Linked DNA regions of Homo sapiens: regions 2 and 3 are each linked to region 1. Evidence: fine-mapped expression QTL. A gene starts in region 1. Each other region holds a variant in brackets. All regions are shown on one strand. Distances are between the middles of the regions. Region 1 holds the start of LINC01515 (long intergenic non-protein coding RNA 1515). Region 2 overlaps LINC01515 (long intergenic non-protein coding RNA 1515). Region 3 overlaps LINC01515 (long intergenic non-protein coding RNA 1515).

What was found. PIP is the estimated chance that this variant, and not a neighbour inherited with it, causes the effect. A credible set is the group of variants that fine-mapping cannot tell apart.
Region 2: its variant is the best candidate, but not a certain one, in a credible set for the expression of LINC01515 in nucleus accumbens (GTEx, PIP 0.53).
Region 3: its variant is the best candidate, but not a certain one, in a credible set for the expression of LINC01515 in prefrontal cortex (BrainSeq, PIP 0.74).

What each region holds. Positions count from the first base shown.
Region 1 is chr10:65,564,757-65,575,471 of GRCh38, forward strand. LINC01515 (long intergenic non-protein coding RNA 1515) reads left to right here and starts at 6,669. Exons shown (of 6, transcript NR_120647.1): 1 at 6,669-6,823; 2 at 8,179-8,300. RefSeq lists a silencer at 2,182-2,382.
Region 2 is chr10:65,706,139-65,716,853 of GRCh38, forward strand. The region is part of intron 4 of LINC01515 (long intergenic non-protein coding RNA 1515); the gene reads left to right. Among named protein-coding and RNA genes, the nearest start is that of LINC01515, 140 kb to the left of the region's middle. The variant G/C (reference allele first, on the strand shown) is at 4,676.
Region 3 is chr10:65,675,094-65,685,808 of GRCh38, forward strand. The region is part of intron 3 of LINC01515 (long intergenic non-protein coding RNA 1515); the gene reads left to right. Among named protein-coding and RNA genes, the nearest start is that of LINC01515, 110 kb to the left of the region's middle. The variant ATTTTT/A (reference allele first, on the strand shown) is at 5,845.

The DNA.
Region 1 (10,715 bases):
CAAGAAATTACTTACTAAAATTTCAGTGATACCATCATCTATTTACACAAAGGCAAATGCATAGTTTTGGTTGGTTTGATATTAATAATACAAAATAAAAATGAACATTGAAATGTCAGTGCTTGAAGTTTAAATCACTAAGGTCTTTTGGAGAGAGTTTAGTAGTGTTTTAAAATACACACACACCACACACACAAATACACACATATACACACCTAAATTGTGTTAGAAAATATTGTATATTAAAATGTAAATAGTGGACACTCTTCTATTGTAGTATACATACTACAATATGTATGTATACTTCTACATCTAATGTATACATACATTGTATATTCATTTTATACTCAATTTGCTAAATTAAGTAGAGTATACAAATTCATTATGTTTTAATTAGTGTAGCTTTTATAGTACATAGTTCAGTGAAAGCCACAAAATAAAGAGAAGTTTCAAAGTCCTTAGATTCCAGAAGTAAGTAGTTAAAAACCATGGGAATTTACTGAATAGCATCTAGCCATGATAATTCCTGATGAGCACACACAAATAATCAAGAATGACCATTAAATGTATGGATACCTTTAAAGCTAAACTCTGGGGAATGTATGCCTTCATAACTTACCAATATCCTCCATTGTTAACTGAGGTATGCTTAAGGACCTATGGCTGGCACTTACCAAAATAGAGAAATAGAAAAACAGAAGTGAAAGGTTTATGAACCATATACTTTTGCCATGTAAAGAATTATAGTCTATTTCATAGTTTTCACAGCCATTAACTAATTCTAGTGTTACTCTGATTAAATTCAGCAAATAATACTTAAGCACACCATGGTAATCTCTGTGAAGAAATGAAAACTAGTGGTTCTTGACTTCGAGATGTTTTCACTGTAAAGAAGGATGAGTTAGGCTATAATGGCAAAATCATACTACTTACCAACCATGAACGAATCTAGTATGGTGTATATAGATAGTTATATACATGCTTAGAGGTCGACTTTGTGTGGTTAACTTAGTATTACTTTTGAAAGAGCAAAATATGACATTATGGGTAGGTTAATAAAGCAGATATTTAGAATGACAATAAAGCAATATTTTAAGAATTTTTGGAGGAATAAATAAGAAAAAGAATGAATGACATAATTTTTCTAGTTTACTATCTTCATGAAGAGATAAAATATCTGTAGGAAGTGTCATGAACACAATTGATAAGTAATGTACTCCAAGAATACAATGAGAATGTACAAAAATAATCTGTAAAGCATTAAGACAGGTTGAGCAAGATTGTCATTTGAGTCCTGTGGAAAGAAAATCAGACTGGTATTTTTTTCTAAATGCTTTTCAAAATAACAATGGAAAAACAATTAAAAACTCCAAGCCTTGCTCAATGCCACATTATGCAGATAGAATAGGATACTCTCAATTTTCTTGAATTTATGCATGAAACAGTTTTTTATCTTTACATAGAAAACAATGACTTGTCTGTGCAATTTTTCTTGCTTTGATATTCTAAAACATGAATATTCTTTATTAATTAAAAAGGTGTCCATGGTTGCAGATGAGTTCCCTATAAAATATCTCTTGCTAACCAGTAACCAAGAAAACAGAATGCTTCATATGATTTTGAACGTGAACCTATCTCAGCAATCCTATTACAAAATCCAATTATGCTTGTCTCTGCCTTTATGTTTCTTTCGAATGTTTTTAACGTACTTTTTCATCTCCACCTCAGGCAGTCAGGGCTCCTTTTCATTTCGCCTTCCTCAAAAACTTCTATACTTGAACCTCACAAATCCTGGAATTTCAAAAACTAAAAGGTATTTCCCAATTAATTCATTAACAGAACATGTTGAAGGTATAACAACTTTTGCTTACTCTGAACAGAATGGAGGAGTTAATACATTTCTTCCATCTGAAAAGAAATTGTAAAGATCTAAACTTTCTTTGAATATCTACTTGCTCTCAAATAATTTGGTCAGTTGTCTTACTTTAACTTGAAAACTATATTCTTAACGTACGTACACAATTCTAAAAAAAGTTTTAGTCTCAGTTAGAAAAGTCATATGTAAATAATTAGAGACAGTAACTAATTATTAATGTCTTTTTAAAAAATGTTTATGTATATATAATTTCATCTGTTCTAAAAATAATTAGGCAAAGCAATCATGTTAGAAGACACTTCGCTCTGATAAACTGTTGAGATGTTAAAATCAGGAGAAATTGGTAGAATTACAGAAACTACAGTTTGGAAGTAACCTCAGAGGGCATCTCATTTAACTGGCTGCCTCATGGATTGATGCCTTCAGAAAGGTTTAGGAGTAGTGACTGTGCAGTTTCTGCTTCAGTACTTCCAGAGAAAGAACACTCACTCTTAATACAACCAGGCTTTTCAGTTTCTGGAGAGCACAGTTAGAAATCTCTTTCTATTCTTCAGATCAAGGTCTACTTTATAACTCAAACAGTAGAACTCCCATATATTTTTGTAAACAACTTTACATTTCATAGCTTAAAGTTGAAATAAAAATGTGCATCCGTGGCCCTAACTAGGATAAAGTAATATTCAAAACCAAGAGTGGCATCTGACATTGTTCACTTTTGAGACTGAGTTTTGTTTTTGTTTTTTTAAATCAGGCAATATGGTAATCTGTTAGCCTAAGAATATCTATACTTACATGTTCAAACTATAGAATAATTATTTCTTATAATGACTGCCTAGTAGACTAGAACAACTAGGGGGCATGTGGAAAGTTAAGAAAAATCATATTACTTGAGGAATATATGGCTATATTAGTGTGTGTGTTTGCATGTGTGTGTGTGTCTATATAAATGCTTGTAACTGTGTGGATGTGTCTGTGCAGATTTTATGTTGTCTATAGATGTGTCTGTGTGCATGATGAATAAGAAAGGAGTAGAAAGTAAAGATTTATTGTTAGCTCTGACTTCTTCCTTGCATATCATTTAAACTTAACAGCAAATAACACTGGAGAGAACACATTTGACTGTTATACCTGCATACTTGAATCATCTGTGTTCTTACTTGAATATGGGACAAATAGATATTTATAAACAGCTTCAGGTGAATTGTATATTATGTTGAATATGTATATTAGATAAAATCCAAAGATTTTTCTGATGTCATGTTGTGTGTTTGTTGGGATGTGTGGGGTTTTTGTGTGGGGGTGGATAACAATCATTTCTGTTTGGGGAGCCATGCAATTTGACCACATGTAGCCAAGTTAAAGATTGGGACTCCCAGCCCAAACTAAAAATTATGGGTTTTTTTGTATAGAAGAAGTAAAAGATTTTGCCTCCAAAATGTTAAGAGAAAATGAATAGATTTTGCAAGCACATACTATTACCTTCTGAATATCATATTTTGAATATTTTAAAAATTTGGAATTGAATTTTAAATATCATTTATACATTTGAAATCTATGTTTTCTAGATACCCAGAAGGTAAAACCAAAGGATTCATAAAAATATATTGGCAATTTTACTAATTAGAAGTTCTATACACAAATAAGTGAAACCAAAGATATGAGGCTTTTTAAAAATCATTATTATTATAAGAGCATAGATTTGGTTGTCTTTGTTCTATTTTCTGTGCTAAAATTGCCAGCCATCTTGAATATGGCATCTATTATATAATTTATATAATTTGAATATGCCAAATAGTAAATGGTCAATTTTATTTTATAAAAAAAAGCAATTATTGAATTTTATGTTTTCCATTGTCTAAATATATGCTATTGTTTGCCATACAAGTTTAGAAACGTTAAAAAGACAGTTATAAGAAATTAAATCTTTAAATAATTACAGGCTTTGGAGTTTTTTTCTTTCCTTTGTGTTCTTTTCTATAGCTTTTAAAGTTTCTTGGATAGAGGACCCCCTATTTACTTCTCTTGGCTTTGATATTTTTTGGACTCATTGCACTTAGAGCATACTCTCTGATACATTGCGGTTTACTTAAAAAAAATTCTAATCTGGTGCTCCACACCTTCCTATAACTAACTAGACATTTAGCCTTATAATTTACATAGGTTAAGATATAAATCTTGAAAAAGAATATGCAATAACATATCAGACAAAATAAGCATACTTAAAATACATAAAAGGACTCCTAAAAATTGTCTATTAAATGTCAGATAACTAATTGTTTTAAGTGCAAAAGAAATAAATGAACATGTCACAAAAGAAGATCTAAGAATGCCCAATTAACACATGAAAAGCTGTCTAACAGCTTCAGTCAATGGGAAAATGCAGATTAAAACCACAATAAGATATTGTTGTCCAAAGAACCTACAACATTTTACCCTCCCACCAGCAACGTATGAGATTCATATCTGTTTTACATCTTCACCAACATTTTGTATTGTCAGTACCCCCCAACATTCTTTTGGATGTGAAATAGTATTTTACTGCTGAATAATATTCTTACACATTTCTTTTCCTGTGAGAGTTTCTTATAAATATAAATTTACACTTATTCCGTGGTTAAGCAATCCCACCCCTAGGTGTTTTCTCAAGAGAAATAAAACAAACATATGTTCACAAAATGAATTTTACAAAGTATCATGATAGCCTAATTCCTAATAGCTAAAAGTAGAGTACTCCAAACTTCCATGAACAGCAAAATTTTTAAAAATTTACTTTTATTCTTATTTTTTTATTTTTAACTCAGCTTTTTATCCCAAGTCAAGAACTGCTAAACAAATTATGGCATAACAATGAAATGGAAAGCTACACAGTAGCAAAAAGGAAAAAAAAATAGGAATGCATGCAATATTATGGATAGATTTAAAAATTATTATGAGTAAAAGAAGCCACTTTCTAATGTTGCTGGCTATTAATTTTTACAAAGACATTTCTATCACTTTCTACATAGTTCTAAATATGTGCTATCCAGTATGTCCAATAGCTATATGTCAGCGGCTATTACCACCAACAAGGAGCTGTTAAGAACTTGAAATATGGCTTGTGTGATTAAGAAAGTAAATTTTAAATTGTATTTAACTTTAATTAAATAAATGTTAAGATTAAATAGCCACATGTGACTAGTGGGAACTATACTGGACAGCACAATTCTATATCTCGTTTAGAGTGGTAGTTAAATGGGTGTGTACAATTGCCAAAATTCATCAAGCTTAAATCTGAGTAGTTTATTAAATTTATATTATACCTAAAAAAGGCAAAAAAGTTGCAATGTTTATTTGTGAAAGTTTCCATTTAAAAACTAAAACAAGAACTCAAAATTAATGACATAGTTTTGAGGGCATATTCAAGAAGGTAAGAAGAATAAAGCTTCACGTATCCTTAGAATTCAAATAAAACCCGACAGATTAAAACATTAAAGGAGAATCTCAGACCTAACTCAGTTTCTGTCTTTCCAAACGTTACTTTATGTTTATTTCATAGGTGGAATGTTGTACAGTGTCATCTGTTGCTACCAGTGAGTGACATCTGTGATTAATCGCATTGCCTTAATTAAACAGCAATTGCCTGGATGTGATCACCTGCAGTGGCCAGCCTCCAATCAGATTAGCTCCCAAACTCCAGTTCTCTCATTGCAATTAACTTCACTTTTCACATAGGTCCCCAGAGAATTTCAATATGTCTGATGTCAAGAACGGAAAGTGAGACAGCCAGGTGGGAGGGGGTCCCTGGAGAATCTCCAACCAGCCTGCGCACTGGGAATGCGCACTGGAGTGAAAATACAGAAGTTGGTGCCCTTTGCAGCAGCCAGGAGTCCGACTCCTCCTCTTCCTGTGTGGAACCTGGAATTCAAACGGCTGGGTAGGAAGCACGCTAGCAGGGGCCTCTGGCCTTGCTGAGGGTCCCTGTTTCCCCTTTTCCTTCCTTTTCACCCAACAAAACCCTGCTTTACTCACCCTTCAAACCATCTATGAGCCTAAATTGTCGTGGTCGTGGAATGGACAAGGACCCAGTCTTTAGCTGAACTAAGGGAAAGTCCTGCTTTTTGGCGCGCAACAGGGGAGCTCAAGAAACAGTGAGTGAAATGGGGACTCAAAACCTCTCACTGTTGATCCTAAGCATTTTCATCCTCAGACTACTGAGGGTGGGGGAAACACGACCCCAAACTCCGTTGCTCCGTTGGGGGTCGTCGGGGGAAAGGCCTTTTCCTTCCTTTTTCAGGACAGACAGGAAAGCCGGGGCTCCTCACTCCCCCTCCCCTCTGTGCCCGGGACGGGATGCATGGCCCAAGGGTCCCACACAGCTGGCTAGATGGTTCTCAGACACAAGCCACCGCAGCCTTCCTTTTCCCCTGCCAGGGGGTTAAACTTTATCAGAGAGTAATTAAGCTTTAACCCTGCTGTTGAAATCACTTGCAGACGAATAAGAAGTTCTTCCCCAGGCATTTTTAAACCTTTTTTCACTCCCCTTTTCCACCTCCTCAACAAGTAAACCCTTAAAGTTTTTTTTTTGTTTGTTTGTTTGTTTTTTTTTAGAAGACACTTTACTAGGCCACTCCCTCTGCTCCCCAGCTATCACTGTATGCTCTGCAAAGTTTTGCTTGTGAAATAAATCCTCTATTTTGTTTTACATCCTGAGGCCATGGCTTATAACTCTGGCGGCAAGGATTTGTTTAGCAATCCTGCCTTAGGGGATGAGCCCTCTCTAATTCAATATCTGCATGTCCCCTGTCTCTTAAAGGGCCTCACTCACGGCATATGGAACTAACCACGCCCCTAACTAAGAAGGCACACCTTAGTTGCAGTTAGCACACAATTAAAGCAACTCTCCAAGTTTTACCTTAAAGTTCAAAATTGCTAGGAGTTGAAACTACTAGAAATATATTTACATGCAAGGTGAGTAAGAACAGTAAAATGTGTTTTTTAATAAAAGGTTATAAGAAGGCATGGAAATGTAAACTTTTGCCTAGGGTTAAAGGATTGTTTGAGTTAAATTAGGAAAAAGCTGAAGGTTCAAAGAAGTGGTGGGAGAACTGTGGAAATTAATCTTGCAGAAGAGATTCTATGTGAACATATTGACTAAATTCAGAAAAGGGTATTGTTTGGTTTTTCTGTAAATTGAAATAAAAGCATAACAAGATTTTCCTAAGGTGCTAATCTGCTCTTTGGCACATTTGTAAAGGGTTATAACAGGTTTTTGCTTCTTTAAAATTTCTGAGTCATGATTTTGGCAAAATAAATAACTTTTGGTAACCTGGAATTCTATTTCATAATATCAAGTTATTTAAACCTCAAACATTTAACAGCCTTCCCAAAATCAAACCTCAGTTTCAAAATTGTCTTCCCTGGCACCTGGCTTTTCAAATATGTCAGAGGGCCCCTGAAGTGTCCAGAGAAGAGAGGTAAACAGGATTATTTGACATGTTTAGGTACATGGGATTGCAAAAATTATGCTCAGTCTTCTTTAGGTTGTATCTGGGTGAATAATCCTAATACATGTTCCAAAATTGTATGAGATTTCTAGAATTCTAATGGCTGAATATATGCTATCAGTCATAATTAAGGTCGTTATGTTAAGTTATTGTAAACCACGGAGATAACCAAGCTTCTTTGTCAATCGTGTTTCTAACTGTAAGTACCCTGGACATTTTGCTATTCACAGACAGTTGTTGCCTTGTTTAATCCTTCTCAAAGATGGTTTATAATGAGCTATAGAACTTTAACAGGTGCTCTCAAACACAGGCTTCTGGTAACTTTGGAAATTGTAACATTAAAATAAAGAAAAATATACAGGACTCATAAGGAGCTGAAATGCTCACAAATATCAAACAAAACAAGAGTTAACTAAATGGACTGAACTCAGGAAACTGAAACCAGGCTGGGAGCGGTGGCTCACACTTGAAATCCCAGCACTTTGGGAGGCCAAGGCAGGTGGATCACCTGAGGTCAGGAGATCAAGACCAGCCTGACCAACATGGCAAAACCTTGTTTCTACTAAATTAAAAAAAAAAAAATTAGCCGGGCATGGTGGCACATGCCTGTAATCCAAGCTACTTGGGAGGCTAAGGCAGGAGAATCACTTGTACCCAGGAAGCAGAGGTTACAGTGAGCAAGATTGAGCCATTGCACTCCAGCCTGGGTGACAAGAGCGAAACTCCATCTCAAAAAAAAAAAAAAAAAAAAGAAAAGAAACTGAACAAATCTTTTTAACCTTTGCTTGGAATATTGCTGATCCGTGTTTTGTTTTTCAGAGTCAAAGAAACTTTGAACTATTTATGGCCTTTAATAATTAAGTAAGGTATACTCCTGTGATCAAGACTTGGAGCATATTTGTTTCTCTCTGCCTGGTTCCTCTAGAAATTGGAAACTATCAGTGAGTATTTTTATGACAATATAGTTGTTTGCATCAGTGCAGTAAGAGTCCATTTTCAATGGCGGAATTCTTTTCTCACTCTTTTCGTTGTTTAATAATTATTATAGCAATAATAATAATAATAAATACCAATTATTACATTAACTCTCTGCATGTCTATGTTCTTATTGCATTTTCTTATAAGAACACAAGACGTATTGGATTATGACCAACTCTAATGATCTTATTTTACCATTTTAAATATCCTATCTCCAAATACAGTCACATTCTGAAGCACTGGGAGTTAGGATTTCAACATAGGATTTTGAAGGGGCACAGTTCAGTCTGTAACAGTGGTTAAAAACCCAAGTTCAGAAACCAAATTTTCTTTGCACAAATTGCAGTTTTGCAGATTAGGAGATATGAGACTTTGGCAAACTTGCCAAGACCTTGGTGACACTCTTTATGTCTTCTTGTTCTCATCTTTAAAATGAGAGGTGAAAGAGGATTAAAAATTATTACATAAAAACAAAAGACTTAGGATGATGATGAAATGCTGGTAATATATGTTAGATATTAGTATTTTTTATCTCAATAAATTCAATTGCTGTAACTCTTGATTCCTCATCTTGCTACTGTGCAATTGCCCTCCTCTTCCCTCAGTGTCACCCATCAAAGGGTAGATAGTCTCATTACAATTCTTACTTCTATATTTCTTTTCTGATTGATCAGTTCCGCCTCTTTATTGACACTGGGATTTATATGCATTGACTTAAAAATGGAGAAACTACAAGCAGCATTAGAGGCTGTTTTTTAATTAATGAGTCTCTCCGCTTACACCATCAAACTGAAGATTAGCTGTTGATTTATGAGATACCCTCAGCTTGTATCTTGTGCCACATCCAGATCATTGCCAATTCATTTCCAGAAGGAGGATCAGTACCATTATCTGCTCAGTATCTCTCATTTCAAGCACCTCTCAGAGAGAGAACTGAAACATCTTTATCATTACCAGCAGTAAAGCTAAAGCAAAAAGCTATTCTCTGAAGCCTGCTGAGGGGATGAAATTTTTCAAAAAATACATCTCTGGGAGATGGGAGAAAACCTTTTCCACACCTTCCCTGAGAGAAGCAAAAGGGATGTGAGAAAGGGAGGCATTCTCTTCTGCCAGGGTAACATACTCCTCCTATAGTAATCCCACATCACTGAGGGCCCAAGTTCCCAATGCTTCTGCTCTTTATTTCATCTAGACAGCCATTCTTTCTTGCTTTTTTTTTGTTTTTTTTTGAAACGGAGTTTCACTCTTGTTGTCCAGGCTGGAGTGCAATGGCGTGAACTCTGCTCACCGCAACCTCCCAGGTTCAAGTGATTCTCCTGCCTCAGCCTCCTGATTACCTGGGATTACAGGTGGCTGCCACCACGCCTGGCTAATTTTTTGTATTTTTAGTAGAGATGGGGTTTCACCATGTTGGCCAGGCTGGTCTCGAACTCCTGATCTCAAGTGATCCACCTGCCTTGGCCTCCCAAAGTGCTGGGATTACAGGCATGAGTCACCATGCCTGGCCAGCAGCCATTATTCTTATACACACCCACAGACCTAGAGAAGTTAGTTTGAAGTTTCTGTCTGTGCCATATGCTACACTTGAGACCAGTCCCATTCTCCACTTTTCCCATGATGTGAGTGTCAAGTTTTATCCAAGCCTTCACTCCAAACTCATCCTCTGATGCATTATTAGTTCTTCCTTCTAGAGCCCTGTTTTCCTTTCTTTACCAAGGAACTCCTTCCTTTCTTGAACAAGTTAGTATCTGGTCCCATTCATCAGAGCTATTCTGATACTATTGAGTCTATATAGGGTAAGGGTTAAAGCTTGTATTCTTTAATTACCCAGGAAAGGTTGCATGCACTATCACAAGCAGCTGTCAGGTACAATACAGTATCTGGCATGGGTTGGGAGGTAGAGGGTAGGGGGTATTGTTGAAGACTTTGCTAAAAAAAAAAAAACTTAGGTTTTACTGAAGATGCAAATTTAGTCAGTAAAGGGAGGGATACAAAATTCTCTCCCCATCTGCTCTTGGTTCATATGTTACTAAGCTTGGAAAAATTAGATGATTTTTTTAACCAGTGGTTTCCCCCCATTTTGTATTCATCTGTCTTATAAACCAATGGTTTTATAGGGGCATATTTTTAACTGCATGGAAATAAGAATATGTATATAATGAGTTTGTTTTACATGCAAAGTTTAACAGAAGTCATAATATTAAGAAATACAAAAAATTTGGAAAGAATCTAATTAAATTAAGAAGAGAAAATAATAAAAAGTGAAACTATAGGACAACAAAAAAATAAATATGTGGTAGTTGAGACTTCAGGATTAATTAATTCATTTTCAATACTTTTTAACAAAATAATTGTTATATCTACTATTGATTTAGAAT
Region 2 (10,715 bases), 140 kb after region 1:
TTGTCTTAAGAAATTTATACTGGCCTGTGACATCCTGAGTATAAAGCCTAGTTGAGCTGCCTGACCTCATGGAACTATTGTTTTAAGCCACTATGTGACAATCTGTTAAGTGGTGATACAAAAGTCATTCATGAAAGGTCATAAAATGATTTCCTCCAGTATCCTTCCTTAGAAAGTTTCTGAAAACTGTGCACTACCTAAACGAGGCTGAACCAGATTCAGGTTTCAACAAGGTTGAAGTCAAGAAAGTAATGTACAAAAGGTGCATAAAATAAGAGATTCAAGACAAAAGGCAACAGAAGGAAATAGCCAAGATAATAAGTGAAGAGAGATGACAGGTAACAACTGTGTACCAGACTGGAGCAGAAGAGAAGGCCCCAGGAAAACTTTCCTCAGTTAGATTGATTTGATAGAATAATTCATGAATGAAGACATTGGGGAAAGATTTAGACAATTGTTAGAATGTTTAGCATTAAATAAGTGAAAAATACATCAAAAACTAAGCAACCTTCCTTCTCTGCATCCCTAAAAATAAGATAATTATTAACTCCAGAGGAAAAAAAAATTGAAGCAGGAAGTTTTTTCAATGGCCATAGTAAAATAGATGGTTCAGCTTGAGTAATGTTTTCATACTTACAACATGAATACTGAAATCAACAAAAATCAAAATTACAATTTAACTAGACTAGATATACGGGAAAAAGGGAGGCTACATGTGTTGGGGTGGTTTAGGGGCTTGAAAAGGGTTGAAAAAGACCTACCTTCTAATATTCTCTGGTAGGGGCAGTATATAATAGTATATAATGCTTAAAACTTAGAAAATAATCAAGGAGTAGCTAAATAGGTATATTATTTGGACATATACAGTTAAATTCTAGAATAAACGTCAAACAGAGTTGAAAGTGGTAGCCTCAGGTTAGAAGGGAATTTAGGATGTGTGAATTGCTACAAGGACCCTTGTAGAACTATTTTACCCCCAATTTATATTGTGTGCAAGTATAACTTTTAATAATAGTGAAAACCATAAATAATTATAAAAACAAGAAAATGTTTCATATAAAACAACAGATTTTATATGAATTTCATCAGTTTCCACTTCTCTCTATTTCGGTGTCCAACCCAGAATCTTATTTTCACACTGTGCATGTATCTTCTTGGTCTCCTGCAATATGTGACAGTTCCTCCTTCTTTCTTTGTATCGCATTACCTTGACACTTTTGAAGAGTATTGATCTACAGTTTTTTCCTTTATAATTAAAAACATCCCAGAAAGATAATCCTTGTAAAAAATATGTTTCTTTTCAAGTTGCAGCCCACTAAATTTAGCATCCATAATTTATTATTATCCTCTCTCATAATTTACCTATTTATTCAATAATGTATTGCTATCATTAAAACATGATTAAATACTGATAGCAATTAATGTATTGCTATCAGTGTGGATCCATATATGCTTCTATTATTCTATGGATTATAATAATTACTATCAGCATTTATCTTGCTATTCAAAATTTTCCGATTCTAGCCATGAGTAGCTCCTTAAGGTTGACTCATGTGTGCTTTCAACATGTTACCCGCTTTTTCTGAACATGTGCTTACTTTCTGACACAAGATGCTCTAGGCTCATGTTGTATTTTCCCTAAATCAGCCTTGAGTTCAACCATTCCTCCAAAGACGTTTTATCAGTCAGGGCTCTCCCAAGAAACGGAACTACTAAGATGTGTGTATATATGCATATAGAAGGATTTATTTTAAGAAATTGGCTCACACAATTATGGGAGCTGGCAAGTCCAAAAATCTGCATGGCAGGCCCACAGGCTAGAGACCCAGAGAAGAGTTCATATTGCAACTCAAGTCTGAAGGCAGTCTGCTTATAGAACTAGCCTTTTCCTCTGGGAACTTCAGTCTTTTTCTGTTAAGGTCTTCAACTGATTATATGAGGGCCCCTCACATTAAGGAAGATAACCTTTTTACACAAAGTGTACTGTTTAAATGCTAATCTCATTTTAAAAACACATTCATGACAACATCTGGACTGGTGCTTGACCAATTATCTGGGAACTATGGCCTAGACAAGTTGATACATAAAATTAACCATCACAGAGCCCCAGTTCCTCTTTTTGGATACCACTTACAAACCAGCACGTGGATGCTAGGTATGCTCACTGTTACTGGGAAATCAATGCCTCTCAGTGTACAGAGCTAAGAACATTTGTATAAATACTGTAAAGTATATGTATAAATACTCATCCACACAATTCTTTCTCTCCCTCAATCTCTCTCTTTCTTTATGTGTGTGTGTGTGTGTGTGTGTGTATGAGTTCTTACTTATACTTTTAATTCTAATTCAACATAACAAGACCCTCCTCTTTATTTGTAACTTTTTTCTACAACGCTGATAAAACAATATATGTGTGTAAAGTCATTTCAGAATTACTCACACTCTTATGAGAAACAAATTTCCTAACTGTATGACAGTATGTGTGTACAGTTTCTTGTGTCTTTAGCTTTAGAGTATCTGGTCAAAATATTTTTTTCCAATGTTATTTGGGTTAGCTCTTTTCTTCCCTTCTACCTTCAGTGTGATTATGTTATTCATCTGTAATGCATTTAGCTTCTTTTGTTCCTGTTTTTATTACCTTTCTGGTGGTAGGTCAATTTTTAATTTAACATTAAAAGACAATACTTACATAATGAAGAGTGAATTTTTAAATTTAAATTCCTATTAATTTTTTAAAACTCTGTATTAATCTTTAAGTATTAGTTAATGTCTTTCATTTTAGATTTTGGGTAAGCTCAGTCCCTCATGGGAAGATGGAGGGGAAGAAGCCATTGACCTTGCTCAGCATATAGATTTGTTCTCTCCTCTTCTAGAATTTGCCAGTTCTCTTGATGCTCACCCAGTACCTATAAAACTGTTATTTTTGTGAGTAAAAAGCAAGCCAAAGTGCTAGCATGTTGCTTGACACTGCCATGATAACTCTCAAGAATTGTGTAAGACATCTGGTTTGCTAAACTAATTTTGCATTAGTTTTTCTATCTAGTGAGAATTTTCCACAGAACATGGAAACTATATAAATGTACTTCCCAGAGATTACTCTAATTCAACAGTAATACTTGATCATGTTTTAAAAATTTTTATTGATATATAATATCCATATACATTTTTTGACAGTACATGCAACGTTTTGTTACATGCATAGAATGTATAATGATTAAGTCAGAGTATTTAGGACATCTACTACTTTGAGTATTTTTCATTTCTATGTGTTGGGAGCATTTCAAATCCTCTTGTCAAGATATTTTGAAATATACACTACATTGGTGCTCAGTATTGTCACCCTATTATGATCTTGAACATTAAAACTTATTCCTCCTAACTATATGTTCACTTGATAATATTAATTAAAATAGGTTTGTCTTCAGACAAATTGCAAGCATCATTTTTTCTACAGAAATCACATGAGTCTACTGTGTGATTCCCTGTTTGTGACATTCTAGAAAAGGCAAAAACTGTAAGGACAGAAAACGAGTCAGTATTTATTTAATAGGGTGAGGACTGACTTTAAGTGGGCATGAGGGAATTTTTTGTTAAAATGGAGGTTGTCTATATCTGGATATTAAAGACAGCTACATGAAAGCATACAATTGTCAAACCACATTAAACTGTATACTTTTAAATGGTTATCTTATGGTATTATATTTCAATTATAAAAACATGTTTAATCACAGAGAACAAGAGCCAAAGTATTATATATTGAAAGTAAGATTTAATGACAGCATTTATAAACATGTTGGAATATTAGATAATTCAATGATATGCAGTGAATGACCAAAAAGACTATTTTTATCTTAGGCTAATTTTCTTCTGCAGCTTCCTCACCTCTCTCAGCCTTCATAGAATTAGAGAGAGTTAGAACCTTGCTCTGGATTAGGCTTTGGCTTAAGGGAATGTTGTGGCTGGTTTGATCTTCCATCCAGACCACTAAAACTTTCTCCACATCAGCAGTAAGGCTGATCTGCTTTCTTATCATTTGTGTGTTCACTGGAGTAGCACTTTCAGCTTCCTTTAAGAACTTTTCCTTTGCATTCACAACTTAGCTAACTGGTACAAGAGGCCTTGCTTTCAGCCTCTCTTGGCTTTTGACATGCCTTCCTTCCTCGCTAAGCATAATCCTTTCTAGTTTTTGATTTAAAGTGAGATATGTGGTGACTCCTCTTTCCACTTGAAAACTTAGAGGCCATTGTAGGATTATGAATTGGCTTAATTTTAATATTGTTGTGTCACAGGAAATAAGGAGGCCCAAGGAGAGGGAGAGTGATGAGGGAATGGCTGGTGAGTGAAGTAGTCAAAACACACACAACCACAGGATTTATCCATTAAGTTTGCTTCTTTATAATGTCGTGATTCATGGCATCCCAAAACACTTACAATAATAAAAAAAATCACTGATCACGTATCACCATAGCAAATATAATAATAATGAAAACGTTTGAAATATTGCAAGAATTACAAAAATGTGACAATCAGAAATGAAGTGAGCATGTGCTGTTGGAAAAATAGCTTCCTATGGATTGGCTTATTTGAATAATTTTCCAGGCTCCAAAGCATAGGGCTATTCCTAGTTGTCTGAAACCTGGCCCCAGAGTGATTTGGGTTGGAGCATAGTGGCCAC[G/C]AAGGTGAGAGCTCTTTAATGGAAATGGTGGGGGTATGGACTTCATTAGCTGCTAAAAAGAACTGAATCACCTGTAGCTAGAGACTCAACATTGGGTCAAGATACCATTTAGTTGAAACACAAACCAAAAAGCTCCATTACAGTCCTTATCCAGGTCTGTTAAATCAGAACCTGTGTTTTGAAAATACCTCCAGAAGATGCCAATGCACGTTCAGATTTGGGAAGCACTGCTTTAAACAATGCTTTTTCAAGAGCAGTTGAAACATTACAAATGTTTAATTCAGAAAAGAAGAAATTTTAGATGGATATGGAAAGTGAGTCAAAATATATTTTTAGGGACTTTGGGTGGGTCTAAATATATGAGGGCTCTCATAAGACATTTGATCCCATAGGAAAGAATAAGAAATATCAATTACAAGTTCAAAAACATAGATTTTGTTAAAATAAGATCCTGGTAAAGTGACTACATTATTTGAGGATCATCTTTATGGAAGAATTATATAACCTTATTCTGTTTGACTTAGCCATGAACACTCAACTTGTTCTGGCCAATGAAACGTGAAAGAAAAAGACATTTGTTATCTCCAGACAGAAACTATAAGAAGCAATGAATATTTTGCCATTTTCCCTTTCTTTGATTCTGGAATCACAGAAGTATATGTCAAGATAGAGCTTCCAATAGCCTATGTATCTCAGGAACTAAAATAAACAGAGTGTCTTGGCATACTGCAATAGATACATAGTGTAAGCCATAAACATTTTATTTTAAAAAACTTTTTGGGTTTCTTTGTTTGTTTTATGCCTCTGAAATTTGGAAGTTACTTGTTATTGGTGTAACATAACCTAAGGTGACCTGACAGATACGTGACAATGATGATAGAACTTTCTAAGATATGCAGCTTACAAAAATGCATTTTCTTCTGAGAAATAAGAATGAGGGTCTGCAACTAATTAAACACAGATTTAAATTGCAATCCCATTTCCATACCATTTATATTGGCTGGTATTTCATAGGTGTTTGATAAGTGTTATTTTTTATTCCATTAACGCAGTGGTTTGTAAATAGTCTTCTGGAGCTCCATATTTTTATGCTGGTGCCTGTGGGATCATGGTGTACCTCAAAGAGGATGGTGTGGGTATAGGCTTCAGGTCGGCAGTCTCCTATTCAATTCGTGCAACCCTACTTGAAAATTTTTACATATTACAGTGGCATTTAAATTTAGCTGACTAAAAATGTTCAAAAGGGCATGGAATGTAAAAAACAGTGCTCTACAGAATTGCTTGTGAATGAAAATGTTCTAAACATTTCAGTTAAGTATCATTGAGCACCATTGGTGACAATATGTCTCAGTTTTCTCAGGACAGTCCTAATTATTAATTAGTGATTTTTCCCTCTTTTACTCTCAAAAACTACCTAATTGGATAACAAATTATATGGCCACCCAAATAAAAAGCTCAGTACAATGACTACGAATAAATGATTATAACAATAAATAGTTAAAATGTACATGTCACAATATACTACAGATTTCTTTCCTTTGTTAAAAGTGATTCTTTGTCACCTGATGAGTCAATCAACCAGATGCACTTTAAAATTACATTTAAACTTTGAAATTCTATTACAGCATAAACAGAAATAACCTAGAGTAACACTCTGAAGAATGAGGAGACTGTCATTGCTAAGAAAAATACATTTTGATAACACCAAATATACGGAAGCCATGAGAAACAGACAATGCTAATGGAACATGATTTTAATATTTGAAAGCCTTATGTGGTTCTAAGAGATGAGATGTATATTATAAGAGTTCTATCAAGTTCAAAAGTCTTTAGAGTTGTAGGGAACAGTTAATTAACTTGGAGAACTTAAAAGCAACAAAATTAATATTACAACCAAGAACTATAGCCATCAGTTACCAGTTACATATAGTTTTACTTAAAAAACATAGGTTCTAAATCTAAGGCACGTGTTCAGCATCATCACTTCATCTTTCTGTAACAGAGTATGACAACTGTAAATAGGGTTCACCTATATCATCAGTGTTATAGTAAATTGTTCAACTGCATCCTAGCCAATCGTCCTGTTTCTTAAGTACTTAGAAACTCAAAGATGCAGGTCCAAAAACATTGCTTTAGGAAAGCAGCCCTTCACAGTATTTGGGCTTATATAATTGTGATTGCAGTGGTAAGCATTTGAAAACTTATGAAAATTTAGAATCACTCAAAATACAATTGACTCCAGGTTATTAATAATTTACATTAGGAAATATAAGTATAAATATTTACATTTCAACTATTTTAATTGTTTAAGACAATTTGACCTTTCAAGAAGATAATTTTAAAAAGTAACTCCAATCTCAAATGTATAATTGTAAATTGATATTTAATTTGAAGACTTCATTAATTTAGAAACAATATTGAAGGGTTTATGATAACTTAAAATTTTTAAAAGGTCTAGCATATTATGATTTTAAGAGTCACAAAAGTGCTTGAAAAGGTTTGTCACCCAGATAATGGGGAAAGTTAAAAAGGATATCAAGTATTGCAAAGTATCTGATTAGTAGAGAGACTAAATTCAGATGCCAGCATAAAGTTTAAGTGCCTCACACTGTTATTTAACTTGTGTTGGCCAATATAAACCAAATTTAGAAAATTCATCTTTCATGCCTAATATGTGAATGAAGAAAAACAAAAAAATTTTAAAGAAAATTCATCCTTTTATAAGCCTAACTGTTTGTGGGAAAAAGACAGTTACCAAAAGCAGTCATAAAATGACTGTGTGCATTTTCCTAAGTAGTCATATACCAATTCTGTTTCCTCATAATTTCCAGCCATGCTTTTCAGACGTATAAATGGCAGCATATGGCCACATAACAAAGTTTAAGAAACTAAGTATTATCATAAATTTCACAGAACACTAGCCTCTTATGAGCAATGGGAACTTGGGAATAAATCTAATCTTTGTGATAGAACAGTATCTCTACATTTCATTAATTGAAATAGATAATTTTCAAGACTTTTCAAACCATAAATGCAACCCAGTATGAAAAGTCTAAAGCTCAGGTCTAGAGTTCTTATCTGATGGAATGTTTAATCATGAAATCAATATTTTGAGAACAAAAATTCTAGTGAGCTGTGTGTGCCTGGGGAGAATATTTTCATGGCTTGTGATGCTACTTAATAAGTGAAAATCACTGAGACACAACCTGAGAAGGAAGTCTGTGAAATAAAACATTTAGCTGTTTTTACAAGATATTGGGCAATGCAAATTATGTTGTCTAACCACTGTGATTTTTTAAAGCTTGCTGATGCCTATGCAATGACTTGTCAGGGTGGTAAAACTCGTGGTGCTTTTTATCCTGAGTTCATTGATACCTGATTTCATTTTTTAAATCACTCTGCGTCAGCATTGAAAAAAGGTAAACAAAACTTTTACAAGATGAAATTTGAGGTGGAGAAAATAATGGCACATCATTTCCATTCCTGTCTTCTTTTATTTTATTTTCTTTTTTTTTTAAGGAAAGCATACAGACTGGAAGAACAGCCCTGTATGGGTCCTTAGAAGCATCTATAGTGCACTGGGCAGGAGTACTGACACTTTCCCATGTCTTGCACACAAGGTTTCTGTAATTCATTGTAATCACAGTTCCCCACATCCCTACTTGCTACAAAGTTCTACAGAGATGAAGCATTTTGGTTATGTCTAATGCTCTTAGAAAATGATTTTCTAATTCTAGAAAACACAGGAAAGCCACCAACAAAAAGACTTTTTTTTTCTTGAAACAGTAAAAATAACATGGTTTAAAAAATGAAAGAATAAATATGGGTAAACTCTGGTCAAACAAGATGTCACTTACTAAACAGAAAGATAGAAGAGGTAAGGAATTGATGCCTGGCTGGGTGCGGTGGCTCACGCCTGTAATCCCAGCACTTTGGGAGGCCAAGGCGGGCAGATCACAAGGTCAGGAGATCGAGACCACCCTGGCTAACACAGGGAAACCCCGTCTCTACTACAAATACAAAAAATCAGCCAGGCCTGGTGGCGAGCGCCTGTAGTCCCAGCTACTCGGGAGGCTGAGGCAAGAGAATGGCGTGAACCTGGGAGGAGGAGCTTGCAGTGAGCGGAGATTGTGCCACTGCACTCCAGCCTGGGAGACAGAGCGAGACTCTGTCTGAAAAAAAAAAAAAAAAAAAAAAAAAAAAAAAAGAATTGATGCCCCTAAGTATGTGTGACTGTGTTGACTTGGTGCAAGGGAAATGTACTGCTGATTCTCTCTCATCCTTCCCTTTTGGGGCTTCTCTCTTTTCTTTTACAATCCTTACTATCTCTGCTCTATGAATCTAGGTACCTACGCTTCCCTAGTGGGTAAGATGCACACAATGTGAGCAAATGTGAATCAACTCACTGAAAGCAGTTGTTTTGAGTCTCTCAATAAAATGTACGTCTGTTGGCATCTCATTGAATCTAGGCCCAGTTCACTTCTCTGAAAAGATAGCTAATTAGTCTAAGTATGATAGATATAGATACACGCCACCTGTCAGGAAAGAACTGCCATGCTGCAGGAATGTGATCAGCAGACAGCCATCAACATTCAGCTCCTTTATAATCAGCCTCTGCTTCAGAAAGTAGCCTTGCCAGAGGTCATGATTTTCCCTGGGCAGCCCACATTGGATAAATAAAAGGCTGGGACATAAAGGTACAGTCATTTCAGCTCAAAATAGGACAACTAGACAGGTAATACTTGCTCCTGATCTCTTCCCTCACATTGGCTGAATGTTTGACAGACATACATCAGAGTACGACTTCTTCCTCTAACCAATCTTTCTTTCTTTACCTTTCACAGGTATTAATCCCTAATAAATACTTTGCACCCAAAACTTCATCTTAGTGTATGGTGCTGGAGCTTTCCGAACTGTGACATCAACTAATTTCTTCTAAAGTGTTATTAGCAAATAGCAGCTTAATGTGCCACACCTCTGAGTACACTGTAGTTTAAGAAGAGACCCCTGAAAACACAATGCCTTTATCCAAAAATAGTCATTCTAAAATGCTAGGATTCTTGTAACTTGGTAGGCTAGAAATTTACATAATGCTTAGAGAGCAAAAAAAAAACCTTCCTAAAGTAATTTTAATGTATCTCATTAAAAGGCTACTTATTGTTCATTAACCATTTACCAACACAGCTAGAAAAAAAAAGCCACAGTTAATTCTACTAAAAATGGATAATTTCACTTTTGATAGTATACATAATTATTTTAAAACTAAAAATGTTTCAGGCACTGTATTAAATTCTGTAAATTTATTTTCACCAATTTATTCTTGGAGCAATCCCTTATGTAACTTTATAGATAAGAAAACCAAGGCTCAAAAAAGGTAGATAGATAGATGATAGATAGATAGAGAGATGGATAGATAGACAGATAGATAAAATGAAGATGCAAAGCAAAAGCACAAGTCAAAATATCAAAAGCCTATGACCCTAACTTTCTGAGTAAAAAGCAAAGGTGAAATTTGGGAAGGGGAAATAGTATAGGTTCTATCATTAGTGTTCATCCTATCACTGGCAGATCCAGAATTTTGGAGCAGAGACTCAGCAGAAAAAAAGAAGAGGAAAGGTTAGAGGCCTGAGATTATTTCAGGACTGATTCTTTTTGGGGGGAATTGCCTTAACCAATGTCAAATGCTGCAGGAAAATTTTGTATGAAGTTTGACATAAAACGCTATAAATAAAATATTTTAACTTGAGTTCCCTGTTTAGAAAGTAGAACTTTAAGAATATATTAAAAATCAATATATTCCTACCAAGGGTTTTGATAGCAACTGACTAAAAACACGAATAAAAGCTCAGCATTATCACATATTTATTGAGTCTCAACACTAGACAATACCATTTGAAGCACAAAGACATGTTATCTCGATAGCTGTTATTATTTACATGCAGTCAAGGTTTTCAGGTGTCTAATGATAAACTCCTAAAAGCAACCAACACACATCAGGAAGGTTACTTTGGCAACCATGACTAATCAACCACATGTACAT
Region 3 (10,715 bases), 110 kb after region 1:
GAAAGTGGTATGTCTTATACTAAATTAATCTATGTTGTATCTACACAAAGAGAAAGAAAAGGGTATGTATCATGACAAAATGTAGGATATCGATCTGGGTGGTGGGAAAAGTTATAAGAAAAGTTATAGGGAAAGACACAAACCTTCTTTGAAGGCTGGGAGGTTTTGCAAAGATTTGGGAGAGAATAAAAGCTGAAGGAGGCTAATTCTTTTACCTTGAGGCTGAGGGCAAGAAGTAGGTAACAAGGGAGTGTAAAGGAGTTTATCTAGATACATTTGTTTACTTATGTTGTCCGGAAACTGACCTTTGATCATCCCCGTGCAAGACTACTCCCTGGGAGGGGGGACGGCAATGTTAATTATCCACAGGTTGTGTTGGCTCCAAGCCTTTGTCATTAAATCTGTACTGAATAAATACAAGTGGCTCTGGCTTATGGAGACTGCTAACTTTCTTCGGCCCCTAGTGCCGGCAGTCCCCTAGCCTGCTCTTTCACTGGATACCTGTGTCTGAATACTGCTTTCATCTGTCGCTCGGTCAGGGTCTGTGGAATGGACCCGGCAACTAAATATAGTAATATAAATTTAATTTAATGTACATTTATTTTCTATCTAAAATAGGGGCAGCTTAATAATGAGAGAACTTCATCATGCAAGTTTATAAGGGTTTTTTTTGTCCAAGTTTCCATAGGTGTATGCAACCTTAAAAGTCTGATGTGCCTTTAGAGTCTATTGGTATTAATACATGAAGACCATTTCCTCATGCAGCAAGCCACCCTGGGACCTGAGACATGATAACTGAAAACTTTACACAGAAGATAAAGACCAATGGCTTAGTTTTTTGAGGAAGGTAACACAGAAGGAATAAGAACATTAAGAGCCAAAAAGAAAAATAATTTAATGAAAGTAGGCAAGTGAAACTAAACTGACTACTCTCAATTTACATGTTTTGAGACAACTGACTCTTCTAAGGTTGAAGTCAATTGTCTTGTCTCCTTGGAAACAAGATGTCTCCTGGATAAAGCCCTCTCCCCTCTCAGGCTAAATTCAATAACCCTTGCTCTAGCTCCATTATCACCATATGTATGTATTTATCAGAAAAATTTCAAACTTTCTTGCCATTTAAAATGGTGGACAGAGGCAATATCTTTAGTTTTGGAATGTCGAGAATCTTTAACGAGGTATGGAGAATTGTAGATGCTTAGTAAGCAGTCATAATAATAATAACATGGGTCATTTGTGTATCTCTTTGGTGAAATACATAATCAACTATTTTGCCCATTTTTAAATTTTTTCTTCTCTATTGAATGGTGAAAATTTTTGTGTATTCTGGATACAACTTATTTACCAGATATACGATTGGAAAATATTTTCTCCTAGTTTTTCACTCATATTTTCATTTTCATAATGATGTCATTCGAGATGCAGAAGTTTCAAATTTTGGTATAGTGCAGTTTATCAATTTTTGTCCTATAAGAATTATTATTTTGGTATTACATATAAGAATTATTTGCCTTATCCAAGGCCAAAAAATTTATTTCTCTCTTTTTTCCAGATGCTTTTGTTTGTTTGTTTTTATGGTTATAGCTCTTATATTTAGGTCTTTGATCCACTTTTAATAAATTTTCTATATAATGTTAGGTAGAGGTGCAAGGTTCCCCCCTTTTTTCTAATAAAAAATATTTCAATGGGGATATATAATTTTTCCAGCAGCATTTGTGAAATGACTATTCTTTTCCTATTGAATTGTCTTTGCACTTTCGTCAAAAGTCAGTTGACCATAAATATAAAGTTGATTTCTGGACTTTTAATTCTGTTCATAATCTATACTCTTCTCTTAGTGTCAATGCCAAATGGCATTGATTACTATGGATTTATTGTTCTTACTTCTTCTTCTCATTTTATGTATCATGAGTATCATTTCAAGTCAATGTTCATGCTTTTGAATAATTTAAGGAATCTTCCTCATACTTTGTAATAATAAACATAATTAATGAATAATGCTTTTCAACTGGTCCCTTATGGATTCATAAAGATTGCCTCCTATGCTGTATTATAAAAGCTTTGTTTGGCTATTCACATGTAATCTATAAATTATTTGGAATGAATTTTTGTAGTATAAATGGGAGGTACAATAATTTTCATATCAGTACTTAAATGCCTCTGCATAAATTACTCGAAAAGACTATAGGTTACTCACTGTTCTGTAGTGCAATCTATGCCATAAATCTATTTTTTTAGACCTTCTTAAAGATTTTCATTAAATTTTTATACTTTTATTTTTTCTACTCAAGTACACCTTTGTCAAATTTATTACTATGTACTTGATATTTTTCATATACTGTAAATTATATCTTTTTCTTTGTAGTGTGTTTCTGAATGTTGTACTAGAAACCAGGAGGTTTGCTCAACTTTCCAATTAATTCTAAAAAATTAATGTTTAGAGTCTATTGAATTTTTAAACACACACACAAAATCCTATTGTCTATAAACATTTAGAGATTTTCTATTTGCAATATTTATACTTTAATTTATTTTAGTTCTTTACAGCATTTTCCAATATTGAATAGAAGTAGTAATTTTGAGTCTTTCTTTTGTCCCTATTTGTACAGAGAAAATATTTTAATGTTTCACTTTCAGTATGATGATTCTAAAATTTTTTGTTTTGTTATGTTTTTGCTTCTCTGTTTATTGTTGAAAAAAATCTTTGTTTAATTAAGTAAGCTCCACTCTATTTGTATAGTAACACAAATTTTATAAGATAATTTTTTCTAAAACTACTGAGATACTCAAATGATTTTTCTTCTTTAGCTTGTTAATGGGATGCAACATGTTGATTGGCTTTTTTAGGATTGACCTTGGTAATGTTGAATTCTCTTTCTATATTGGTTCATTATGTTTACTCATATTTTATTTAGAATTTTGTATCTGGTATCTTTTAGTTTATCTGTAATTTTCTTTGCCTGTACTGATGTTCTCAGTTTTAATATCAAAGTTATAATTACCATTTAAATTGATTTAAGGGGTGTTTCCTCATTCCAGTCTCTGGAATAATTTATTTAAGATTTGAAATATGGTTTCTTCAAATATTTGGTAAGTTTTCCCAATGAAAACATTAAGTCACAAAATTTTCACAATGGTAAAATATAAAATTACTAATTTCTTTTCTGTATTAAATATATAATTACATAAGTTTTCTATATTGCTTGTTTTATATGTGTTGTTAAAAGCTTTGTCAATTTTATTTAGTTTTTCATTTTAGCTGAAATAAATTCGTTCACAATATCTTATTGTCTTATTTTCTGCTGGGCCTAAAGTGAATCAATAAAATTTTCTTATTCATTCCTGATATCAGTGATAAGATTTCTCTTTCTCTTTTTCTTTTTCTCTGTCTCATTAGTCTTGCCAGAGTTTTATCAATTTTACTGGTCTTTTCAAAAAATTAATAGTTTACTTTGTTGATCCTCTCTTTTGTATTTTTATTTTGCTTTTTATTTATTTATGCTTTATTCTTTATTATTTGTACATTTTTACTTACTTTGGATCCTTTTATTTTTATTTTCTTTTTATTGAACTTTGCCTAACTTCTTGGGGTGGATATTTGACTCATTAATCTTCAATGTTTCTTCTTTTGTAATATACTCACTTAACAAAGTTCTTCAAGAAATTGTTTTTCTGTATCTTACAAACAATGTATGGATTGTTTTCATTGTCATTTACTTCAAATATTTATTTTTTTGCAGCTTCTTTGAAATGTGTATTATTTAGAATTGTATTTTTTAGATTTTAATTATTTGGAGATTTCTTAGTTTTATTTTTTATTCATTTTTAATGCAGTTGTACTGCAGTTAGAGAGTATATTCTGTATGATTTCAGTGCTTAACCATATGTTGAGGTTTGGTTTATAGACCTGCAATTAGTCACTTTTTATCAGTGGCCCATATGTGCTTGAAGAAAACATATTCTGCAAATTTTGGTTTTACTCAAATCTTCCTTGCCCTTTCTTATTTTTTTCAACTTTTTCTTCTGTAACTGGAATGCACAGTTACGTAAGTTTCAATTCTCCTTCAATGATTGTTAATATGGCTACTTCTTTCTGGTTTCTCTTTATCTTTGTTTCATATGATTTGAAGCCATATATTGGATGCATATATATTTTGATTTGATGTATTTTCTTGGTACTTTATAAATTAAACTTTTTATTCTTGTGAAAAAGCCTCTTTTATCTCTTAAAATGCTTTTTAATCTTTCTTTCTGAAAGGAAAACAAAATCTGAAATTGATCTCCATGTGCAAAACTAAGTCACACCATCATCTCTGTAGGTAACTTTTCTCCTCTACTTTATATGCTATTTTATTGACAATGACAGCATTCCACATTCATTATTTTTCTTTATATATATATATGTGTGTGTGTTTTTGTTTTTTTTTTTTTTGAGACAGGGTCTCACTCTGTCACCCAGGCTGGAGTGCAGTGGTGCAATCATAGATCACTGTAACCTTGAATTCTTGGCCACAAATAATCTTCTGCCTTGGCCTCCAAAAGCACTAGAATTACAGGCATGAGCCACCATGTCTGGCCACAGTCCTTTTTGTTGTTGTTGTTCCTTCTCACTTATGGCACTGAGTGGTAAGCTTTCTATCTTCTCTAACAAAACTATTACAACACAGCAAGCATACATGGCAAAAGGACCATAGAATCTCATGATTTTACTCATTCCTATGATTAGAACTTATATAAGCTAATGGGAAGCTAAGAAGTAATTTGTAATAGTAAGTAATTTGTCTCTTGTGGATTAGCAGTCTAAATTATATTTTGTACTATGATCTCCTGGTGATAGTTTTAAAAAATCCGTATGTTCACCAAGGAATATGTTATTTGGAATGTATTCTGTCTTTCTCCTAGCTCATCAGAAATACAGGGCATTGTCTAAAATTCCTGTGATGGTTCTTGTCATTAATGAGACTTGTCTATGGGTATCCCTAATAATGTTTGTGTTGATTAAATTATCTGGCCTGATTGTTTAACCTAATGAGAAAAGCTACTTTTTAAAATGCGACTAGACTTCATATTTTAAAAGAGTCCCAGCCAGTAAAAGTTTCCCTAACTGGAAAATAAATATGTATCATTTTTATTGGAAAAAGTAAGTTAAAAAATATGAAATGCAGAGACACTGCCCAAATATTGTCAAGGCTTCACGGGACAGAAACAATCTCTAGCTTCACCCACAATTTAATTATTCTATGCCCAATTGACTTTTTATTTTTCTTCTCCCCAACTCTATCAACATTTTTTAAGATATGAAATGAACAGAGTTAGTGGGACTAATACTGAATTTCTGTGACTTGGCATTTAGCAATCATGACTGTGTTTGCTTCACTGATTTTAAGTAATCTTAATATATATAAATCAGAATGTACACCTGACATGAATCTAAAGATTTGTTAGGAAACCTGCAGAGAGGTCCTTATTGAATCTAAGAATTCATGGCAAGTGGAAAACATACATTCTGAAAGCAGAAAATAGCCTATTCAGGTTGAATTAATCTTGTCACTAACTTATTAGACCAGTTTCCTTAAAGTAATACGAAATATGAAATAGCAAATCTTGGGAATTTTTAAACAATTTTTTGTTATAGCAATGAGTCATGTTGGTTGAAAAATACATGGAAAAAATCACTATAAAAATCAGAGGCAGGTACTGCTGTTCACTTTTTGGTATTTTTTATTTTAATCTTAGTTTTATTACTGTGTATATATGCATAATTTTAACCATCTCTAAAACTTTAAATCTTTTATAACAATGTCTCATTTATTACATTTATCATCAAAATATATATATATATAT[ATTTTT/A]TTTTTTTTTTTTTGAGATGGAGTCTCGCTCTGTCACCCAGGCTAGAGTGCAGTACCGCAATCTCGGCTCGCTGCAAGCTCTGACTCCCAGGTTCACACCATTCTCCTGCCTCAGCCTCCCAAGTAGCTGGCACTACAGGCGCCCACCACCATGCCTGGCTAATTTTTTATATTTTTAGTAGAGAAGGGGTTTCGCCGTGTTAGCCAGAATGGTCTTGATCTCCTGACCTCATGATCTGCCCACCTCGGCCTCCCAAAGTGCTGGGATTACAGGCGTGAGCCACCGCGACTGGCCTAACATATTTTTAAAACCTGCAGAATGTTTGTATTACTTTTGTCATAGTACATAACATTTAAATGGATTTCTTGTTTGTGTATGTGTGTATATTCATTCACAACACTGATAGTTTTTCTGAATATTTCCTTTGGATTTTATTCTTTTCTCATTCAACTAAATAAGAACCTGCACCATCTTTTTCTAGTGTAAAAATTACAATATCTGAAGTGAAACTACTAGAATAAATCTTGTGACAATTCTTAAGGATTATCTTTTAGTTGGTATGGTTTCCAAAAAAGATTGTACTAAGTTTTACTCCCAGTGGAAATATTTAAAGGCAATACTTCCATTTCTTTTTTACAGAATAGAATCCAATTATTCTTTTTCATCCCATTGTTGTATACAGACTTTATTTCATTTACTTGTAGATCAAAGGTTTTTTGGTTTCCTATCTTTTGGACACTGTTTTGGGTACTAGAGAGAGCATGAGTAGCTAAGTTTCTGAAATTTACAGTGAATGGAAAAAGATAGGCATAAATGAAACAATCACAAAAATAAATGTAACAGCTACAGTTACAGTTGTAAAACTGTGGTCAGTGCTATGGAGGAGTGTACAAGGTGATATGAGAGATCATAATAGGGAAGTTAAATCTCTGGTTCATGTAAAACTGCCATGGACACACTCTCAGTGAACTTAGAGCTAAAAGAGGAGTAATAGCCATTAGACACAAAAAAGCAGATAGAAAATGTTCTGGGAAGAATAATGTCTATAAAGGATCTGGGGTAGGAGAGAGCATTGTTCTTTGGTGATATGAGATTGGAGGGATAGGTGAATATAAAACATAAGCATAAAAACTAGATAGTATTTAAATCCTTTCCTTGGATCTTAATGAGAAGCACTAAAGAGATTTAAATAGAGAATGACAACATGTAATTTGGCTTTTAAACAAAGTTATGTTTTTTAATGCAGAAAATAAATTGGAATGAAGCCCATGTGAATGCATGGAGACAAGGTGAAAAGGTAGATGAGAAAAAAGTTGGAAATATTTGCAGGTACATTTGACAGGACCAGGAGATGTCTTGGGCATTCATGATGATGGAAGAGTGGTCAATAATGACTCTATTTTCTAGCTTGTATCATGAGATGAATGGAGACCCGTAGAAGAATAAGTTTTGTGAGTGACTGGGTCATGTAATATATTTTGGATTTGTTAAATGTGAACTACTTTTAAGAAACTGTGGGGAAAAACTTCGTTTTGTTTACATCCATGAATCATTTGAAGCACGAAAAATAATTCTCAGCTGAAGATACAAATATGAGGGCCCTGGGTGTATAACTGAAGGCACGAGTATAAATGGGATTATTTAGGGAGGGCTTAAAAGTGGATAGAGAGTAAATTCACAGACTATAGGTACAAAATAATCACCAATGACAATATATTATGCAGCTTAAGACCAATTGTATGTATTTTCCTGACAATGTCTTTTAGAGCCTGTGACTAGTTTTCTCCTGAAGATGTGGTGATCTTCTTATCAATTTTTAAGAGTACTTAAATGTTTTAACAATTATATTTAACTCAAAATTAGTTTCCAACTTGTTTTCCTTTAATTATAATTTAAAGTGTATATTTTATGTGTACGAATATTAAAAATTTATGAAGTCATATCTATTGCCTTTGTCTCTTATTACTTTACCAATGCTTACAAAAACTTTCCTCATTAATGCTTATATAAATCTTCTTTTTTATTGCAAATTTTTCCATTCTTCTGGTTTGTAAAATGCCTAAAGTAAAATGTGTATCTGAATTAATTAATCGTTAAATATCTTTTCAATTTTCTCAACCCAATATATTGGACAATTCACCTCTTACTCCCAGAGTTTTATCTCTACATATTATTCCTATGAAGCTTTTACACATGCTGAGACTAAATGGTCTGTTCTATGTCATTGATTCTATTTGCCTAGTTGTCTATTTACCTTGTAGTTTTGAGGTAATAAATGGTCCTTTAAACTGTGTGGTGTTTGTGTGTGTGTATTTAAATTTTCTCAATGCTATTTTTAGTAAAGGTAGATTAAATGTGACAAATAACTACCCAAATGGAAACAGTTGAGGTAACTTGATGAATTGACTATAGTTATAGTCTTTTAACATACCTATTAATTATTTATAGAAAGCAAAATTAAAATAAGCTAGAAAGAGAAGATTAAATAAAGAGAGTAACATACTGGAAAATATTTACCAGATATTTAACATTATCATAAATAATTTAAGTATTCTGAAAACCAAGCAGAGGGAGCTTTGTTTATCTGAAATTTTTGGAGAACATTTATGAACTGGATTTATAAATAGATTTGCTAACTGGTACTTTGTAACTTCTAAAAAGCAGACTAGTTTATTTTCCAAAATAAGTGAGTTCTTTAAATGACTCACGACCAATTTAGACTTATATTGAAGAAACATCTAGAAACAAATACTTTCCAATTTTTTAAAAATTGACTTTGGTGTCATGAACTTAATGTTTATTAATTAATATTCAGAATATTCTAACATTTTAAAGATGACAATACAATTTACTTTATATACAGCAGTTTGGTAAAGAAAACAACAAATAATCAATTTAAGTGAAATAACCCATTTTGAATATGTATTTTAATTAACTCGTCAGAGATGTTAATTGGCTTTCTATTATTTTGGACAGTTGTGGTGCTTTGATAAGCTCAGTTTTTCTTCTTTACTTTTATCTACTTTAGCATGAATTAATTTTTATATTTTATAGATATGTAAAATTTTACATACTTTATTAATTTTAATAAAGTAAAACATAATTCATGCTAAGAAAATTAAGTTTATAAAACAACTGACAATGAACAGTTTAGCATAGCCTTCAATCTCACTCAGACTATATTCTCTCTTTATTTCATTTTAAAATCCAGTTATTTCAAACTGGAACTGTGTTGTAGAAGAGAGCTTTAATATTACTTTTTATTGTTTCTTAATATTTCTAACTATTCTATCTTCAAGATATCCAAAGAGAAAGGAATTTCCACAGTGTATAATTATTTATTTTCATGTTTAAAATCTTAGAAATCACTCCCCAATATTATATATAAAAGAAATACTATTAGAAAGGAATATTTTTAAAACTTGTTTCTAAAGAGTGAAGTTTTGCTTCACTCTTTAATGATGGACAAGAACGCCTTCCCTAAACTTGTAATGTGGCTGCCGCTACTTATAGAAGCCTGGTGATAATTGCCCTATGGGCCTTTTATGTAAGATGAATCAAAACTTGCAAATATATAATTGCTGAATTAAACACTCACCTTAAAGGAACTGTTCCAGAATATAACAGAAAATCAGTCAATCTCTTTATGCAGGTTCCTTGATTTTAGCAATTTTCAAACAGATATGATTAGGTTGGTGCAAAAGTAGTTGCAATTTTTGCCACTGAAAGTAATGGTCAAAATCGCAGTCACTTTTGCACCAACCTAACAGAAGTTTTAATTGGCGTGCAATCACTTGTAGAGTGCCTTGAATAATATAAGCATCCATACTCTAGCCTGAATCTCTTAAATTGGAACCTGTGAAAATGGAACCAGGTGACTATAATTTCTTTAAAACACTGTGGAAAGATGATCTTAATGCAAGGCAGTGATTAACACAAGAAAATGAGCAGTAGAATACAACTAAGAATTCATTACTTACTACTATTTTACAACTCTAATGGAAAATGACCTACGATTTTATTAGAAAGGTTTAGAAGAAACTAAGCAGAAGGATTGTGAAGAAATCAGCATGATAGAAAGAGCTCTGGACTGAAGGTTAGAGGACATCAGGCATTTTTTTCCTTGGAATCTCTGAGTCTCACTTGGACTCTGTACCCCAGTCAATAAACACAAGAGTGTACCGGGTAATAGTAACAGACATGTGCTTGCTTTCTGACAACCACTTTTCCTTTCATTTTCCCATTATTTCTATACCTCTTTTTAATAATCCATATGGTCCTGGATTAGTTGACCCCATTACCAGGCCAAAGGACTCAGACTTTCAAAGTCAATCAGTATATCCCATCTCTCCTGTCTACAGGTATGAGTGCAATGCTCAAATCAAATGATTTTGAGTAAATATTAAAATTTTGCTCATTTGAAAAGGACATGTAGGCACCATTCATACCTGATAGGCCCCCACACCAGTACTAAAAACCAAAATATTAACTCTGACTTTTGATTGGAATTATTCAACACTTAAAGTCTAATACTCTGAGGCTGTAAATAATTCTTCCTACATCCTATATGCCTCTGATTTTATTCAAAACTGTCTTTTGTTTTGCCTGGGATGTCAAGCCAACCGTAAGTATGCCCCAGGATATCCCTAAACTAATGATGGCCTGGTATTGGGGTAGCAAAGGATAGTCTCAAGCTCTGACCAATTCGTTGGGGCAGTTTGTACTCCTGAGTTGCCATTGGATCAGGCTGAGGCTAGTCTTCAACTGAGACCACACTTTTGCTTATGTCTTTTCTTTGGCCTGTCCTATTATCTCACTTCCCCCTTCCAGAAAACTCTTCCTCCATAAATCATGTGAGTAAGAAT